Linked DNA regions of Homo sapiens: region 2 is linked to region 1. Evidence: fine-mapped QTL for protein levels in blood plasma. Region 1 holds a variant in brackets. A gene starts in the other region. All regions are shown on their forward strands.

Region 1 (8,326 bases):
AAGGAACCCTGAGCTTAAGGAATCTGATTCTTTTATAACAGGTGATCATGCCTGTCCTTTGGTCCAGAAGAAGACACTATTTTCCAAGGCTGCCCATTAGGAGGTGAGAACATCTTTGAAAAGGCAGTCAGTGCCACTGCTCACAAGATGTGTGGAAACATGAGACACGGGGAAAGGCAGCCATCCGCATTTTTTGATGGGTTAAGCATTCCCTGAAGCCTGGCTAAGTGAGGCCCCATAGGTTCTTGCCCTGCTAATGGGTCTCTTTCCACACTATCCATTTCAACCCAGCTTGGCTTCTGGGCTTAGCTACTTTACATTTGCCTGTTTAGCAAAGAATTGGGGGCTTCCATTACTCCATCACTGGCAGTAAAATAAATGTTGAGGTTCAGGAGATTCTAAATTCCTCTGAGATTCTAATGTCTTCTTTACTGGGGACTGAGGGAGGGATGGGGACTGCAATGGTTCTGAGTCCAAGTTTTTCTGCCTGATGATTTGTGGGCTCTGGACCCTGGGAAATGAGGAAACCAGCTGGCTACACACCCGCTGCTCATCCAAGGCTGGCTCCCCTTGGAAGGGATTCTTGAGCACTCCACACCCCTCAACAGCGAAACAGAACGTAACATTCTACACTGCAAGCTCCTACATCGGGGCCAGCAAGCTTTGTGTGTAAAAAGCCTAATAGTAAATATTTTATGCTTTGTGGGCCATTCAGTCTCTGTTAAGACTCCTCAACTCTGCCCTTGTGGCACAAAAACAGGTACAATGTGTAAAGAAATGGGTGTGGTTGTGTTTAGATACATTTTTATTTACAAAATTCAATGGCAGGCTGGATTTACCCCTCAGGCTGTAATCGGCTGACCCTGTCCATATTCTGAACACACTCCTGTCTCGCAGGCTTCTTTACAAGCCTCTATGTAAAGCACAGGCTGGTGAGGGCCCCAGGAAGAGCAGCACCGCCCTCGGCACAGGCCCCTACTCCAAGTCCTGTGCAGGAGCAGGTCTTGCCCAGCGCAGCAGCTCTGCACCTCTGTGGCACCGCTCTGCCAAGAGGGAAGGTGCAGGCCCTGCAGCCCATCGCCTTGGATCTGAAGACCAGCCCTGTGGGGCTGCTAAGTCATGAAACTGGCCTCATGGAGATTTCATAAAGCCCCTACCAGCTTTCCTGCCCTTCAGAAATGCTTACATCTATATATTTATGTTATATCTTCATATATAAAGAAAATGGAAAAAGTCAAAATCAGTTTGCTATCATTTACAATGAAAGGAAGGAAGACTAAGGATGTGTTTATGTGTGTGTGGAGACAGGAAAAGAGACAGAACCAACACTAATTACTGCAAAACGAAAAAAGAGAAAGGAAGGAAGACAGGGAGGGAGGGGGCAAAAATCTCATTCCATGCTCCACACAGTTCTCTTAAGTCTACAGGCCGAGGTTGTAGGAGCCTAGACAATCTCAGCAGGTAAGAAGATTCTAGGCCCACTAGACTTACACTTTACACTGAATTGAAGAAAATCATAAAAAGGGGTTTTGCCACCTGGATGTACAGCAGAACATAATTAAATTTAATCTTCTTGGGACAGTGTTTTAATGGGATAAATCAGCTCCCATTTAACCTCATACATAGCGACACAAAGAAAGGCCTTTCATGGCGCACGAGGTGTATAAACAAAGGGAAACCATATCTTTCTGGGCAAAACTGCTTTTCTGGATTGTTTATTATGTTTAATCAGCATTGTGGAAAATGCAACAATATCTGTTCATGGACTTGAGAACCCCAGAGTGGGAACAGCAGGTGCGGATGTGGGGAGAAGAAAGGAGGAGGGTCTGGAGAGCGGCCATAGGGGAGGCAAGTGTGAGGAGCCAGGAGTGGGGGCCCTGGGCTGCCCTAGACAGGGACATGCGGGCACCCCGTGGGGTCTTTGGCAGCTCACAGGACAATGGCAGTGGAGGTCTGCTCCCTAGAGGGCGAAGGGGGCACTGAATTCTCCCCCAGTAGCCTCTTCTCTGATCCTTCCTCATTCTGGAAAAAAAAGAAAAAAGAAATCCTTAGGGGAAAAGGATGCAGGCAGAGTTAGTATCATAGAACTCAGAAAGCAGAAAGAGGAAAGGAGGAGGGAAAGGAAAAGGTGACAGGAAAAGCAGATCAGGCAAAAAAAAAACAAGGTGGCAGAGGAAGGGGAGTCAGACGAACACCTGGGACAGGGCAGAGGGGAGAGTGGGGAGATCAGAGCAGAGGAGGGCGCAGAGAGGCACAGGGCGGCGACAGTTGGCCCAGGACCATGGTGATGGCCACATTCCCCAGACAGCAAAGGGGAGAGCTGCATATGGAAAGAAGCTGAGGGGCACCAGGCCCAGCCTCAGGTTCGGGTGCCCCTGGCCCCGCACTCCTACCTGTCCCACACACTCACCACCCAGACTCACGCTGCCCAGAGGCCCCTCCCCGACAACTCACCAGGGGCTGGGAGCTCTGGCCACACAAGTTTCGAAGACCTACTCCCAAGGAAACCAAGGACACAATGACCTTCAAGACACAGACAGCCAGGAACAGGGCACGGATTGCTGTGAACAACTTCTGGAGATAAGGGAAGAACAAAGATAGTCAGGTGTCAGCTACTCCAATGCTGCCCACATCACCACCCTCTCCACCCACCCAGGCACTGACTCTATCCAGCTTGCTGCTCCCACCACAGCTGACTGTGTTTCCAGCCACAGCTTCCATCCCGTTGGCTTGTCTGCAGAGTGAACTTATCACTCCCTGTCAAGAAGTGGAGACTATTCCTTCAACCCGTAGAATCTGGAAGGGCCTAGAACTGCTTTGGCCACAGTGAAAGTGACACTATACAGTGACAGGGAAGCCCTTAGCTGGTCTGGCAGCTTCTACTTTCTGTCTCCTGAAATGCTTGCAACTAGGGTACTCCCCATTGGAATCCAGTTTCTGTGCTATGAGAAGCCCAAGCCAAGTGGAGAAGCCATTGCCGGCTCTTGCTGACAGCCCCCGCTGAGCTCCGGACCATGCAACTACATCATCTCAGACCTCCAGCCTCGGCGAGCACTTGGATAACTTCACCCCCATCTGACTGTAACTGCATGAGAAAACCCGTGAGTGAGAATGGCTCATCTGAATCCAGCCAACTCACAGCACCGTGAGAAATAATAAGTTGTCATTTTAAGCCACTACATTTTGGTGTGGTTTTTAATTCAGTAATGGAAAACTGTGATACCAACACACCAGAAAAGCCAGAAGGGTGACCCACTATCTCCTCTCTGAAATGTCTCCTCTTTGTTCCTCACCCTCCTTGATTCAGAGAATCTTCGTGTCATGAGGTCTGAAAAATGTCTGTAGCTTACATTAAAACCTCCTGAATGAAAGACCCAGCATGAAGTCCAAGCTCAAAGAGCCTACATCTCTGTCCTCCAGGGCCCCCAGCTCCCTGGGAAAAAAGAGCTGTGATGGGTCCCCGAAGACTGGACTCTTCCTGCTCACCCTCAGCATCTGCATGTAAGCTCTACACTCCTCCTTCTGCCATTGGTTCTCTTGACTTCGCC[G/A]CATCCATCTGTACCCAGTGGTAGGGAAGACAGGGTCTGAGCGATCACACACAGTGTCGATGTATAAAAAGGGTTCAGTTTGCCAGATGAAGCTATTCACGCAGAGGACAACAGCAGCCATAGCTGTAGCAAAGCCTGCCAGGGTGAGCAGGCTGGATATATAGCCCTGGAAGAGAAAGAGGGTCATGACACACGCTCCTTCAATCGGTGGAAGAGTCATGAGGTCCCCGCCTCAAATCCCTCTCCTCTTCCCCAGCCCTTGTCCAGGAAACCCTCTCCTCCCCTCCAAGAAAGACCCCAAGATATTGACAACCAAAGGGCAGAAGACAGATAATGGAGCAGAATTCAGGAGGGGGTCAGTGAACAAGGTGGAGAGAGGGTGTCCAAGACTCACAGCAAGTTTGCCCGGGTGCTTCTCATGGACAATGGCCCCAGCTCCTGCTGCGATCACCTGAAAAGAGACACCAGAAAAAGGCCTCCAGTTTACTCTTCTGAATTGGTCTATCATCACCCTCCCACCAGCAGTTCCCAGAATAGCCAATGTGAAGCAGGATCCCAGGGACAGACAAAGAACTCTGACACACAGACCAGGATTCCACCTATACCTGCCCCACCCCTCCCATCTGTCTTCAAGAGAAAAATGGAAGTGACAGGGTTTTAGCTACACCCCAGAGCAGCCTCCTCATGGCCAAAGGCCATTTGGCTCCAGAGACTTTGGTCGCTTCCCCAAAGCCCCAACCAAGATCCATAAGCGCCTTCTTGCCCATCACCACTTGCCTCCCTCCAGGCTCACAGCCTGTTCCTTACTCACCACAGACCCCGCCCAGAAGGCACAGCCTGAGGCACTCAGCACAGTCCAGGGCCCCAAGCTGAGACACACTCCAAGAACACAACTCACAACCCCCAGCAATATCTGAGTCACCTGCAAGACAGGATGAGAAACCAGACCCCTTCCCGTGAGTCCACATGCCCCGGCTGCCCTGGGACCAGCTGCCTGGCTCCTACCTAGGTGGCTCTCCTCTCCTTTTCCTCTGCCTTGACCTCTCTGCAGCTCTGATTCTGGAAGATTCTGTCCCCTTAAAATCCATGAAGCAGCACTGGCCTGGGTCTCCCCTCACCCTTCTCATAGGCTTGGCTATTTATCCTTCATCAATTTTTCCCAACTTCAACACTTTCTCATCCCACCTGAAGATTCCCACTTTTCCCCCCCCATTCTCCTTCAGAGGTCCCATTGTCCCATCCAAACCCCCAGCCTGACCTGAGCTTCTGGCCTATCCTTTCTCTTCAGATCCAAACACACACTCTTGAGGGCTCTGTGGCAGACACAAAGAAGTGCCGCTGAGACCTCCTTCAAGAAAGGGCTTGTTTGATTGCTGACAGCCTGCAGTTGTCAGCTCCTTCAGGGTCACCCTAATTTTTCAAGCTGAAGACACACACTGAGGAGGGCCCCCCAGCCAATGATTAAGCAAGACAGTGGCTCAAGGGCCATCTCCACCCAGTGTGGAACTCCTGCAGTGGGCAACCTTTGCCTGGGAGCTCCCCCACTGGCCTGGCAGAGTCTGCATTGCAGCCTGATGGTTCCTCCTGCTCAATCCTGCTCCCCCTCTTTTCATTTCATAGGTGTCATACCCCAATAAGCCGTTCACACACCCAACTCCGACTCAGAAGAGAACTCCTCTTCTTCCTGGAAAACCCAACTGTCACCACCTCCACATCCTACCAGCATCTCGGATTTGTCACATCCAAATCCCCTACTACCACACACACACACACACACACACACACACACACACACACACCTCTCGAATGGCTGCTCCTCCTGACTTTCAGGGCTCCGATCTCCTGGTCACCCACACTTCAACCCTCTCTGCATGCTGTGAATGCCTCTCTTTCCTTATGCCCCAAACCCCTTCACTCCCATGCCATGGAGGTCTGTGAAGGACAGGGACTCCTTTGTCTCCTCACCATTTCTGCTATGATTATGTGAGTGCAGATCCTCGATCCTTCTCACCTGGATGCCTCCTGACTCTGAGGCAGGTTCCTGCTCAGAATCCATTGACAGCGTTCTCACTGTCAAAGCTGATTCAGGACAGACTCCTCACCTGGTCGTTCAAGGCTCTCAGCAATATGGGCCCAAATCACCCATTCATGAAGCCCATTCCCTTTACTCTTAACCATTATAGAACTTGCCCTATGCCTTCTGGCCTCTTTGCCTTTGCTCCTGCCATTCTTTAACCTGGAATTCTTTTTTGTCCATCTTCCACCTCTGTCTATACCTATTCCTTCTCCATTCAGGGTTCTCCTGCCCTCAAGGATGTCAGATGTGCTTCTCCCTCACCTGATCTACCTTTAGTTCCAGTCATTAGTGTAGCTGCTGTTCCTTCTGATGGTCACTGAGTACTTTTAGATATAGCCCAGGGATTCTCTCTGTAGCTTGGCCTGAAGTGCTGAACACATTGCCTTGCACCTGTAGGCTTTCAGTCCATGTGGGGTCAATAAAACCGAATTAACAGCCTCTAGACTGTTCTTCCTGTTGCCCTACCTCTGGCTGGGACCGACTCCTCTGTGCCAAAGAGGAGGTCGATTCTTCCTTTCCATCCAAATTTCTGTGGGGACACTTACAACTTTTTCCTACACAGAATGAGATATAAATAGTGATTTCTCATGTCCCTCTCATGGGAATTCAACCCACTTTCCTCTTTTGCATCCTATTGAAGAAGGAGAGTTTCCACTGTGAAAGCTGAGCCTACAAATGGGGTCATTCTTGTCACACTCAACTAAAACAGAGTCGAGAGGCCAGGGGCAAAAAGCACTCGGGGCACAAAATGTTGCTCCCAAAATGTAATTCTCTACAAATCAGGCTGCTGAAGCTGCCTGCTGCAACCTGAAACCAGCTTTATCTACAGCTTCTGACCTTGCTACAACTCTAGGATTAGTTTTACTCATGCCATCGCTCACCCATCAGAGCTCACCAGCTCCCCAAAACCTATGATCTTTCATGAAGGGCAATATGTAACATTTCTCCTTTTTATAAGCCTCTAACCTTCTCTTTGTTCTAAAGACATACTGGAGACCACCTGGTCTGTGTGTATGCCCCAAATTGCAATTCTCTCCTCCCAAATAAAACGTTTTAATTTTGAAGATTTGGCTCTATATTTTAATTGACCTCATCACCTCGTTAACGTGCCCCCCAACCCCGCACCACCCCAGTCTTACCCCTAGAGCCAGCTGCTCATAACCAATCCTGGCTGTGGAAGGCACAGTGTCCCCAGGGTGAAAAAGAAACTTCTTCAGAGAACCTCCAGCTTTCAGCAGTTGTGTCAAAGCTGACTCCTGGTGGATGTGGACGTTGACGTGGGTGGGCTGGGATGGCCTAGAGGCCATAGCAACTCCATTCACAATCACCGTGTTTTGCGTCATCCTGCCTGCCAGGGAGAAGACATATAGCAGTGAGGTCTGGGAACTAGGCGAGGGAAAAATACACAGCACAGGTGAAAGGAGAGAAATAGTGTCTTTGTCAAGATCCCAGCTGGGCACAATAGCTCACGCCTGTAATCCCAGTGCTTTGGGAGGCTGAGGTGGGTGGATTACCTGAGGTCAGGAGTTCAAGACCAGCCTGGCCAATGTGGCAAAACTCCCTCTCTACTAAAAATACAAAAATCCGCACGGTGGTGTGCACCTGTAGTCCCAGCTACTCAGGAGGCTGAGGCAGGAGAATCACTTCAACCTGGGAGGCTGAGGTTGCAGTGAGCTCAGATCTTGCCACTGCACTCCAGCCTGGGCAACAGAGTGAGACTCCATCTCAAAAAAAACAAAAACAAACAAACAAACAAACAAAAAACAGTGTCTTTGTCAAAATTCAAAGGGGCTTCCCAGTGCAGATATCAATGGCACTGGAAATCAATAGTGATTTTACACATAAAAAAGTTAAGAGATACAAAAGGGTATATATACCTTTAAAACCTTATCGCTCATCTTTTTCCCTCAACCACCTATTTGCCTTGCAGATGCAAAGTAATATTATCAGTCTCTTATAAATCCTACCATGACATTTTTGCATACAAAAGTGTGAAAAAGTATTTCTGCCCCCTTTTCCCACAAATAGCAGCATACTATACACACTGATTTGCATGATGCTGTGATCACACGATCATATGTTTTTAGAATAATCCTACATGAGTCCATAAAAAGTGTCAACCTAAATAACAGAGAGAGGCTCTCCAAAAGAAAATGAGATTGATTCTGGAATAGGGCATTGCAATGAGAATATGCTTACCATAGTAAATCATGTGCACGTTCAGGGAGGTAAAGGAAGACAAAGGTTTTTAAAGGAAAAATGGGGAGACTTACATAATCTCTTTGAGGTGATCATCCTTGGCTACAAGGATCAATAACAAGGGTGACACAAGTCCAGGGTTAGACAGGCAGTTGCTGGTGGATGTCCTCACAGAAGTATTTTTTTGTGTAAGGTTGTCATTTTACAGAGTCCTTTGTGATGACTTTTGTTCCCAGGTTATTTACGCATGAGAACCCTGCCTTGTGGGCCTTCCATTTTCAGATTTTTTTTTTAACTCAAGTGACTCGATTATGATTCTGACAACTTTCACAAAAGCTTCTTCACTCATTTGTGTAACTGCATATATTTTGAGAGTATGAATTCCTCATAATTTATTTAAGTGGTTCCCTATTGGCAGACATTTAGGTTATTTCTAATCCTTTTCCATTACAGACAATGTGGAATTGGCAGGGCACCAGGAATGCGCATTTGCAATTTTAGT
Region 2 (8,326 bases), not on the chromosome of region 1:
TTTATTGCGGCATTATTCACAATAGCAAAGACTTGGAACCAACCCAAATGTCCAACAATGATAGACTGGATTAAGAAAATGTGGCACATATACACCATGGAATACTATGCAGCCATAAAAAATGATGAGTTCATGTCCTTTGTAGGGACATGGATGAAATTGGAAATCATCATTCTCAGTAAACTATCGCAAGAACAAAAAACCAAACACCGCATATTCTCACTCATAGGTGGGAATTGAACAATGAGAACACATGGACACAGGAAGGGGAACATCACACTCTGGGGACTGTTGTGGGGTGGGGGGAGGCGGGAGGGATAGCATTGGGAGATATACCTAATGCTAGATGACGAGTTAGTGGGTGCAGCGCACCAGCATGGCACATGTATACATATGTAACTAACCTGCACAATGTGCACATGTACCCTAAAACTTAAAGTATAATAATAAAAAAAAAAAGAAAAAAGATTCAATGTTCCTGGCATTCAATTGTTTGATTCATCTTCATGATCATGATTGGCATTTTGGTTGCTTTTGTCCTGATATAAACATGTTTTGAGGCAAATAAATAATCAGCCATGGTGGCTTCATGGCAGCAACTGGGCTAGATGGTTTCAAGGTTGCTCACAAATAGGCCTGTTGATTCCCCATCCCCATCCACTGTGAAATTCTCTGTCTCAAGGGAGTTTCCGCTATTTGCATACTTTCTACACGAAGGCCTCCTAGGAGGGTCCAGCCCTAACTTTAAAATTACCTGTGCAAATAGCAAAGACTTTGAACCAACCCAAATGCCCATCAATGATAGACTGGATAAAGAAAATGTGGCACATATACACCATGGAATACTATGCAGCCATAAAAAAGAATGTGTTCATGTCCTTTGCAGAGACATGGATGAAGCTAGAAGCCATCATTTTCAGCAAACTAACACAGGGACAGAAAATCAAACACCACATGTTCTCACTCATAAGTGGGAGTTGAACAATGAGAACACATGGACACAGGGAGGGGGACATCACACACTGGGCCCTGTTGGAGGATCGGGGGCACAGGGAGGGAGAGCATTAGGACAAATACCTAACGCATGCAGGGCTTAAAATCTAGATGACGAGTTGACAGGTGCAGCAAACCACCATGGCACATGTATGCCTCTGTAACAAAACTGCACGTTCTGCACATGTGTCCCAGAATTTAAAGTGAAATAAAATAAAATAAAATTCCCCATGCATTGCCTAGTTCTATGTCTGCATCCAGCAGCACCTGAAATCCCGGCCTGATGCAGCCCCGGCAGTTCATCTCATTTTATTTTGCCTGAAGTCTCCAAGCAAGTTCTCCCAGCTCAAGGGCCAGCATTCTTTCCAACAACTCATCACTCCTCGTTATGCAAAGGGAAGAACACCAAGGGCTTTCTGTATTCTGAGCAATAATTCGGGTAATGAAGTGAGAGCTTAGCCTCTCTTGTGAATGCTGAGGAACCCTAAAACAGCATATCTTTTGCTTCCAAAAAGATCTAGCATAGCAATTTTGTTGGTTCATAAAATGCTCAAATGCTCAAACCATATGTTTAGCTACAATTCCCAATGGCTATATCCTTCTTTATATGAGTAAAAGAGGAGGTTTTCAGCATCAGGTGGAAAAATAAGTATGGGTATTGGGGAAAATAGTCTAAATTTAACTCTGAGTCAGTTCCAAGACAGTGGAGGTGATACCAGGTTCATGGCCTGGCATTTCCCAGCCTGCGAATTCTGCTTCAAGTCTGCAAGTCTGCCCAGTAGGTACAAGACAAATCATACCCAAGGACATTTGTACAGAAACATGAGCCTTGCTAGATCCCTCCCTTGTGCAGGGTAGCTTCTATGAAACATATAGACCAAGCAGACTTCCACATCAGTGAATACATTTGGCCATCTGAAAATACAGAGACTTAACACATATGGAGACCTGTGGCTTCCTCGGGCCAGCCTCAGTTTGAAAGCAAGGGTGAGATCTTTGTCAGACACTCACGGGACCTGTGCTGCCCATAAAGGAAGGGGCCCTTCTCTCAGGACAGCACAAGGGAAAACACCCACAGCCGGAAAAGAAGGTGTGTCTCAGCATGACGGAGGCTGTGTGCAAATTATTCCTTGTGCCAATATCAGGAGTGTGGATCTGACAAACAAAAGGCCATGTCATTGGCTTAGTGTCTCTGTGGAGTCTGTAATGGTCCTTTTACTTACTTGAGTCCTTTCTAAGATGGATTTTGTTCATTTTCCACTAAGATTGCAGAAGCTGCACGTGGCGTGGCAGTTTATGAATTGGGTCCCCTGGCAAGGCTCTGAAAGACAGCTGGAGTGGGGGTGGGCTGTGTGTGTGAAGCCGCTGCACAGAGCTGGAGTCGGCTGTCCACACAATCACGTCTATGTGAGAGCCGGCAGCCTGCAAACTGCTTCCCTGCAAGGGGAGACACATGCCAGGGGAGGGCCAGAGAATTTTGTTAATTCTGTTTATCTTAGAGACTGTTTTTTTGTCTGCTGGGGGAAATAAAAAACAAATACATAACTTCCTTGCTTGTGTGCAGTCTGATTTTTTTCTCTCTCTCATGCCCTCATTTTTATTTCTCCGAAGTATCTCTCCCCTTCAGTTTGGGGCATCAGTTTATGGCATTTTTCCGTACATGTGTATATAGTATCTATGCACAAAGTCAGAGATATAAATGTCTGTTTTAGACTCTTTTGGCTTTAGTGTTCTGTGGAGGTCCATGAGATATCAGAGATCTCATTTTCTTTCTGTTAACATAATTAGCAGAGCTCTCTCTGTGCTCAGAGTGCATAGCTGAGTCCCGCATAACCAGCAATAACAGTGCATTCTTAGCAGCCTCCCTGGATAGTTTGCTAAATTCTTTCTGAGAGCCTCTCGCTGCCTTTACAAAGGTTATAGCTGAAAAACAAACCAGAAACTGGGAATCCAACTCTGTGAGCAGAGAGAGGGCTGCACATTCTATTATCGCACGGATAGAGGCTCAGGTTCATGCAGTCGCGTTTGGAGTCCTGGCAATTTCAGATGAAGGCCGTCCTTAGGAAAATCAGCTATCCCAAGCCCAGGCAGTCTGGGTTAGCCGAGGTTTTTGTTTGTTTTGTGGAGTTTTTGCTGGTTGGTCTTTTGTAGATGCTGCAAATCACAAATGGGGAACCTGAACGACACAAGCTTTTTCTTCTCCGTATCATTTTACCTGGCCAAAAAGGCAAAAGAAGGGGAAGGTGGCATTGCTAAGTCACAGGGAAGGATATGACCTAAACATCCCCCCTTCCCCAAGTAATCCGGGAGCACCACTCCCCTCTGAGGACCCCACAGGTACTTTCACAGTCCAACACACTGAGAAACAAGCCCACAGGGTGCCAGGATGACATGACCACAGAGAAAAGGGACAGAAGGAGTTTGGGACACATGCACGGACACCTGTTGCTTTTGCAGACTTGAACTTAGAAAATATGAGCCTCATTAGAATTTCTCTTTCTAAAATAAACGACCACTTTTAATATCGTCAAATATCATGTACTGCTATAGTTCTCTGTCCTCCGCACTGAGAATCCAAAACAGGTCCTTGGGATAACTTTTGGGAAACAATACCGCCACGAAAACAAAAGTCTTCTCAGCCAAGAACACAGATTTTTTTTATCTACCTTTGATGTCCCAAAGGACTAGAGAATCCAGAGCATTTAAATAAGACTCCAATGCCAGGAGCTCACTGTTCCCTGCTGGATGCCAGCCCTCCCCTCCCTGCCCAGAAGAGGACATGGTACTCACCAGTCATTAGGGTATAATAATTGGGATACGAGAGACTAGGGAAGTCTGGAGTCAAGTAATCCACTTTTACTCCCCTGCTCACAATCTCTTTGAAACCAGGCAATGACTCCAGCGCCTCATCACTGATGTAGTCTGAGCGAAAACCATCCAGCAGAAACACCAGCAGCTTCCGGCGGGCAGAGGCTGGCTGGGCCAGGCCCAGGGCAAGGGCCAGCAGGAGGGTCCCAAGCTTCACTGCCATGCTGCCAGGAGCCTGCCAGAGCCCGGCTGGCACAGCTGTCGCCTTGCAAAGACTGAGGATGGAGAATCTGTAGCTATTCTCTCTTCCAGGGGCTGGACCTTGAGCCGCTGGCCTTCCTGAGTCAAGTTCACTTGCAGAATTTAAAGGAACAGCACCCCCTTTTCCACACATCTATGCTCACCCTTTACTAGAAAGTCCAGAGACCGACTCCTTCAGATAAACTGGGTTCCAAACAACCCAGAATTAACACCAGGGGAGAGAGTTCAAACTTATTATTTTTGGTGAACGTTCCAGAAATACAAGCACCCACAGAGGTGGAATTTTAGAAGATGACAAAGTCAACACTAACTTTGCAGTTGAGCTAACCAAAGGGAGGAACCAAGGAAAAGGGCAAGATTTTAATTTGCTGTTATCCCACATCATGGCCTCATTTAAACTCTTTTTCACTTAGAATTTAGTAACGCAAACCTCTGGACTCAGTGCATAAACAGGAAACAATACGTTTCGGTGGGCCCATTTGTAAACTTCCCAGCTGTGTCTCTGTAGACACAGCACTTAAAAAAGTTATTTGTCTATGTCTTGGCCACTTATGTTTTTATATGCAGTGTTATTATTTGTTATTATTTTATTTTTCAAATGTGATTTAGCTGCTGGTGCCCATAGGAGGAGGTGGTTCGTAGAAGAGCCCTAGAGCCAATGAGAAGCTTCCAGAGTTGGACAATGGGAAATCATTACTGGCAGAATGGTCTGAAGCAGCATTGCCCCAGGAGGATGGAAATGAAATAGAGAGCTGGAGATTGAGAGCTTGAGATGGAAAAGCAGAGCTAGAAATTACCATGCAGGCTTTGGGACCGAGAAGACTAGGCGGAGTGGAAAATAGGAGGAGGTTAGTGACAGGGAGGCAGATGTGAGCTGGGGAGCAGACAGAGTTAGCACAAAGTACCCAGAGTCCAGGGGTTCCCTAGAGTGGCTCCGTCATGCTACATAAAATTAAACAACACAATTCATGTGAAGGCTTATAAAACATGGCTGAGTGCAGTGGCCCACTTTGGGAGGCCAAGGTGGAAGGATTGCTTGAGGCCAGGAGCTTGAGACCAGCCTGGGCAACACAGCAAGACCCCATCTCTATAAAAAATTAAAAAATTAGCTGGGCCTGGCGGCACGTGCCTGGTCCCAGCTACACAGGAGGCTGAGGTGGGAGGATTGTGTGAGCACAGGTGGTCATATCTGCAGTAAGCTGTGATTGTATCACTGCACTCCAGGCTGGGCAACAGAGTGAGGCCCTGCCTCAAAAAAAAAAAGACATAAAACATGCATGGTCCATAGCAAGTGTTGAACAAATGTTAGATGTTATTCGCATTATAACATTGCTTGTCTCCTGAGGAAACTTGCAGGCTCTGGGCAAACTTTCCAGGGAAGGAAGATAGACACCAGCCACACCAGCCACTCTCAGTCAACCCCAAAATCCCTCTTCCACCTCTGCCCTCTGCTTGTGTCTTTTCTCCTTCTCTTTTTCTGTTGTATTTGAGTCAAGCCCAAACACAGGATCACCATGTCACTTTTTAAATTATGCTGCAAAAGAGAAACACATTGGCCAAATTACCACTCCCCTCTCAGGGGACTTGGCCAAGGATCAGAATTCTTTTTTCCAATAAGAGGTAATGCTTTTTATAATTAAATTTAAATTTTTTTCTTATTAAAAAATAAGGAAAAGGGGAGTTTATCCTAAAAGGTTGTTACTTTGAAAACAATGTTATTCTTTTTTCTTTGAGCTGTGTGGTATTGTTGCTATAAACAGAGAAAAAGAAAAGAGAGAAGAAAGAGGAAAGGAAGGAAGAAAGAAAGAAAAAGGAAAGAAAGAAAAGTAAACGAAGGAAGGGAGAAAGAGAAAGAAAGGGAAGGGAAGAAAAGGGAAGAAGGAAAGAGAACAGAAGGGAAGAGAAGAAAGGAAGAAAAGGGAGGAAGGGAAGGAAAGGGGAGGGGAAGGAAGGGGAGGAAAGGGAAGGGAGGGAAAGGAAGGGAAGGGAAAGGGAAAGGGGAAGGGAAGGAGGAAAAAAAGAATAGAAGGGAAGAAGGGAAAGGAAGAGAAAAAGGGAAGAAAAGCGAAGAAGGGAAGGGAAGGGAAGGGGAGGGGAAGGGAAGGGAGGGAAAGGAAGGGAAGGGAAAGGGTAAGGGGAAGGGGAAGGGAAGGAGGAAAAAAGAATAGAAGGGAAGAAGGGAAAGGAAGAGAAGAAGGGAAGAAAAGCGAAGAAGGGAAGGGAAGGGAAGGGAAGGGGAGGGGAAGGGAAGGGAGGGAAAGAAGGGAAAGGAAAGGGAAAGGGGAAGGGGAAGGGAAGGAAAAAAAAGAATAGAAGGGAAGAAGGGAAGGGAAGAGAAGAAGGGAAGAAAAGCGAAGAAGAGAAGGGAAGGAAAGGGGCGGGGAAGGGAGGGGAGGGGAGGGAAGGGAAGGGAAGGGAAAGGAAGGGAAGAAGGGAAGAAGAGAAGGAAAGGGAAGGTGAGGGGAATGGAAGGGAGGGGAGGGAAGGGAAGGGAAAGGAAAAAGGGAAGAAGGGAAGAAAAGGGAAGAAGGGAAGAGAAGAGATGGGAAGAAGGGAAAGGGAGGGATGGGAAGAAGGGAAAGGGAGGGATGGGAAGAAGGGAAAGGGAGGGAAGGGAAGAAGAGAAGAGAAGGGAAGGGAAAGGGAGGAGAGGGAAGGGAAGGGAAGGAGAAGGGAGGGGAGGGGAGGGGAAAAGGCAGATGCAGCCTGATGGGTTGATGGGCCTCCTAGACACTGAACATCACATGTGCTAGAAGGAGAACTTCTTCCCCTGGTGAGGGCCCATGGAGGTAGGAGGCCCAGATAGCTGTGCTCTGTGAGTTCCTGAGAGGCTCAGGGATTGTCTGGACTGCGAAGCTGGAGTCACAGTGCAAGTCCAAGTGATTTACTTTGGGATGGCCTCTGAGCTCACTTTGGGATGGCTTCTGAGCTCACTTTGGGAGAGGTTAAGCACTCCAAATGTTAAAGATGAATATAAGAGGGACTTCCACTTTTCTCCACTACTAACAAGGGTACACTCAAAATATGGCTCCCTGAGTGCCTCATTGAGCTGTTGTGGGTGTCAACTCAGAAGTAACTTGCTTCAGATTAGCGTGTTCACAGGTCCCCAGAGGCTCCCAAGGCTCCACAAAGATTGTTGTGATGTATCTGGGGTGGGGTCATCATTGTTTTATGATAATGTTTATGATCATATTGTGTTATGACCATGTTTAGACAATGTCTCTAAAGCTTTGGATCAATAAATGATTGCCAATATGAATCTCTAATATACATACCAATATATGAAGAAAGAGACGTATTGGATGGAATTCAAGCCAAGGTAATCCTAGGGTTGCTCAAAGCCAGTCTCCAGGTCTTGAACCGTCTAACCTAGAAAAGATTGGAAATGAAAGCTAAAAAGCAATAGTTAAAAGCCATATGTCATACAGGTGGTTAACATTAAGTGCCCAAAGTCTTGTGATCCAAAACCTATGTGTCTATGATCTGGATGTCTTCACTTGGGAGTGGTTATCAGTACCTAATGCTTATAAGTGCTTATTGCAACTTGTTTTCAAGGGTTGGCAATACTGTAAAGTCATTGTCCACAGGGGTTTCACTTAGATAATGCAAAATATGAAAAATTTACTCCAGAAGTTGAAAGAACCTTTGTCCTAAAGCTGCTGCAAGTCTCTCTAGGGACATGCATGAGCTCTCAGGAAATGTGCTGTCCAGATTAGTCAGCACCCTGGTGCCTCCCCTTTATGGAGAGACAGGTGAGATGGAAGGGAAAGAGTCTCAGAAAAACAAAACAAAACAAAACAAAATAAACAAACAAAAAACACAAAAAAAACGTGATTCCAGAGTCAAGATCCTGGTATGATGCAATTGTGTGATTCTGAAGAAATTGCCTTTCTGGGCTTCAGTTTTCACCTCTGAAAAGTGACAAAGCTCTAGCTTCTACTTTCTAGCTGTAGAATCAATGCAATTTGAGAGTGAGGTCCCAAGTCAGCCCATGTCGGCCAACATCCACCCTTGTTGGTCCTATTAATTAATTCATCCCAGCTTTTGCAGCCCTGCTGGCCTTTTGTTGGTCCATGTCAACCCTCCTTGTATCTGGAAAAATATTATTTAAAATTTAAGACGACATAAGGACATTTTTAGATAAACAAAAGATGAGAGAATTAGTTACCAACAGGCTTGTACCACAAAAAAATACTAAAGAATGTCCTTTGAGAGGAAATAACACAAGATGAAAATTAATATACACAGGAAGGGAAAAAAATTC

Which allele goes with the higher level. Alleles are on the strand shown, and positions count from the first base shown. The strength of an association depends on the size of the effect and on how common the allele is.
With allele G in place of A in region 1, the plasma level of the protein whose gene starts at base 4,078 in region 2 is higher (weak association).

What was found. PIP is the posterior inclusion probability: the model's chance that the variant is causal. The UK Biobank Pharma Proteomics Project read protein levels with antibody pairs (Olink). The fine-mapping took linkage between variants from a reference panel, not from the people measured, so its PIPs are less certain.
Region 2: it holds the start of ENPP6, and the variant in region 1 is fine-mapped to the plasma level of the ENPP6 protein (UK Biobank, PIP above 0.99).

Annotation. Positions count from the first base shown.
Region 1 is chr7:150,789,602-150,797,927 of GRCh38, forward strand. It overlaps TMEM176B (transmembrane protein 176B), which reads right to left. Exons shown (of 7, transcript NM_001101312.2): 2 at 6,765-6,973; 3 at 4,360-4,470; 4 at 3,943-3,999; 5 at 3,487-3,714; 6 at 2,455-2,574; 7 at 1,700-2,022. The coding sequence starts at 6,968. The coding sequence ends at 1,930. Among named protein-coding and RNA genes, the nearest start is that of TMEM176B, 6.6 kb to the right of the region's middle. The variant G/A (reference allele first, on the strand shown) is at 3,549.
Region 2 is chr4:184,213,796-184,222,121 of GRCh38, forward strand. It overlaps ENPP6 (ectonucleotide pyrophosphatase/phosphodiesterase 6), which reads right to left and starts at 4,078. Exons shown (of 8, transcript NM_153343.4): 1 at 3,784-4,078. The coding sequence starts at 4,024.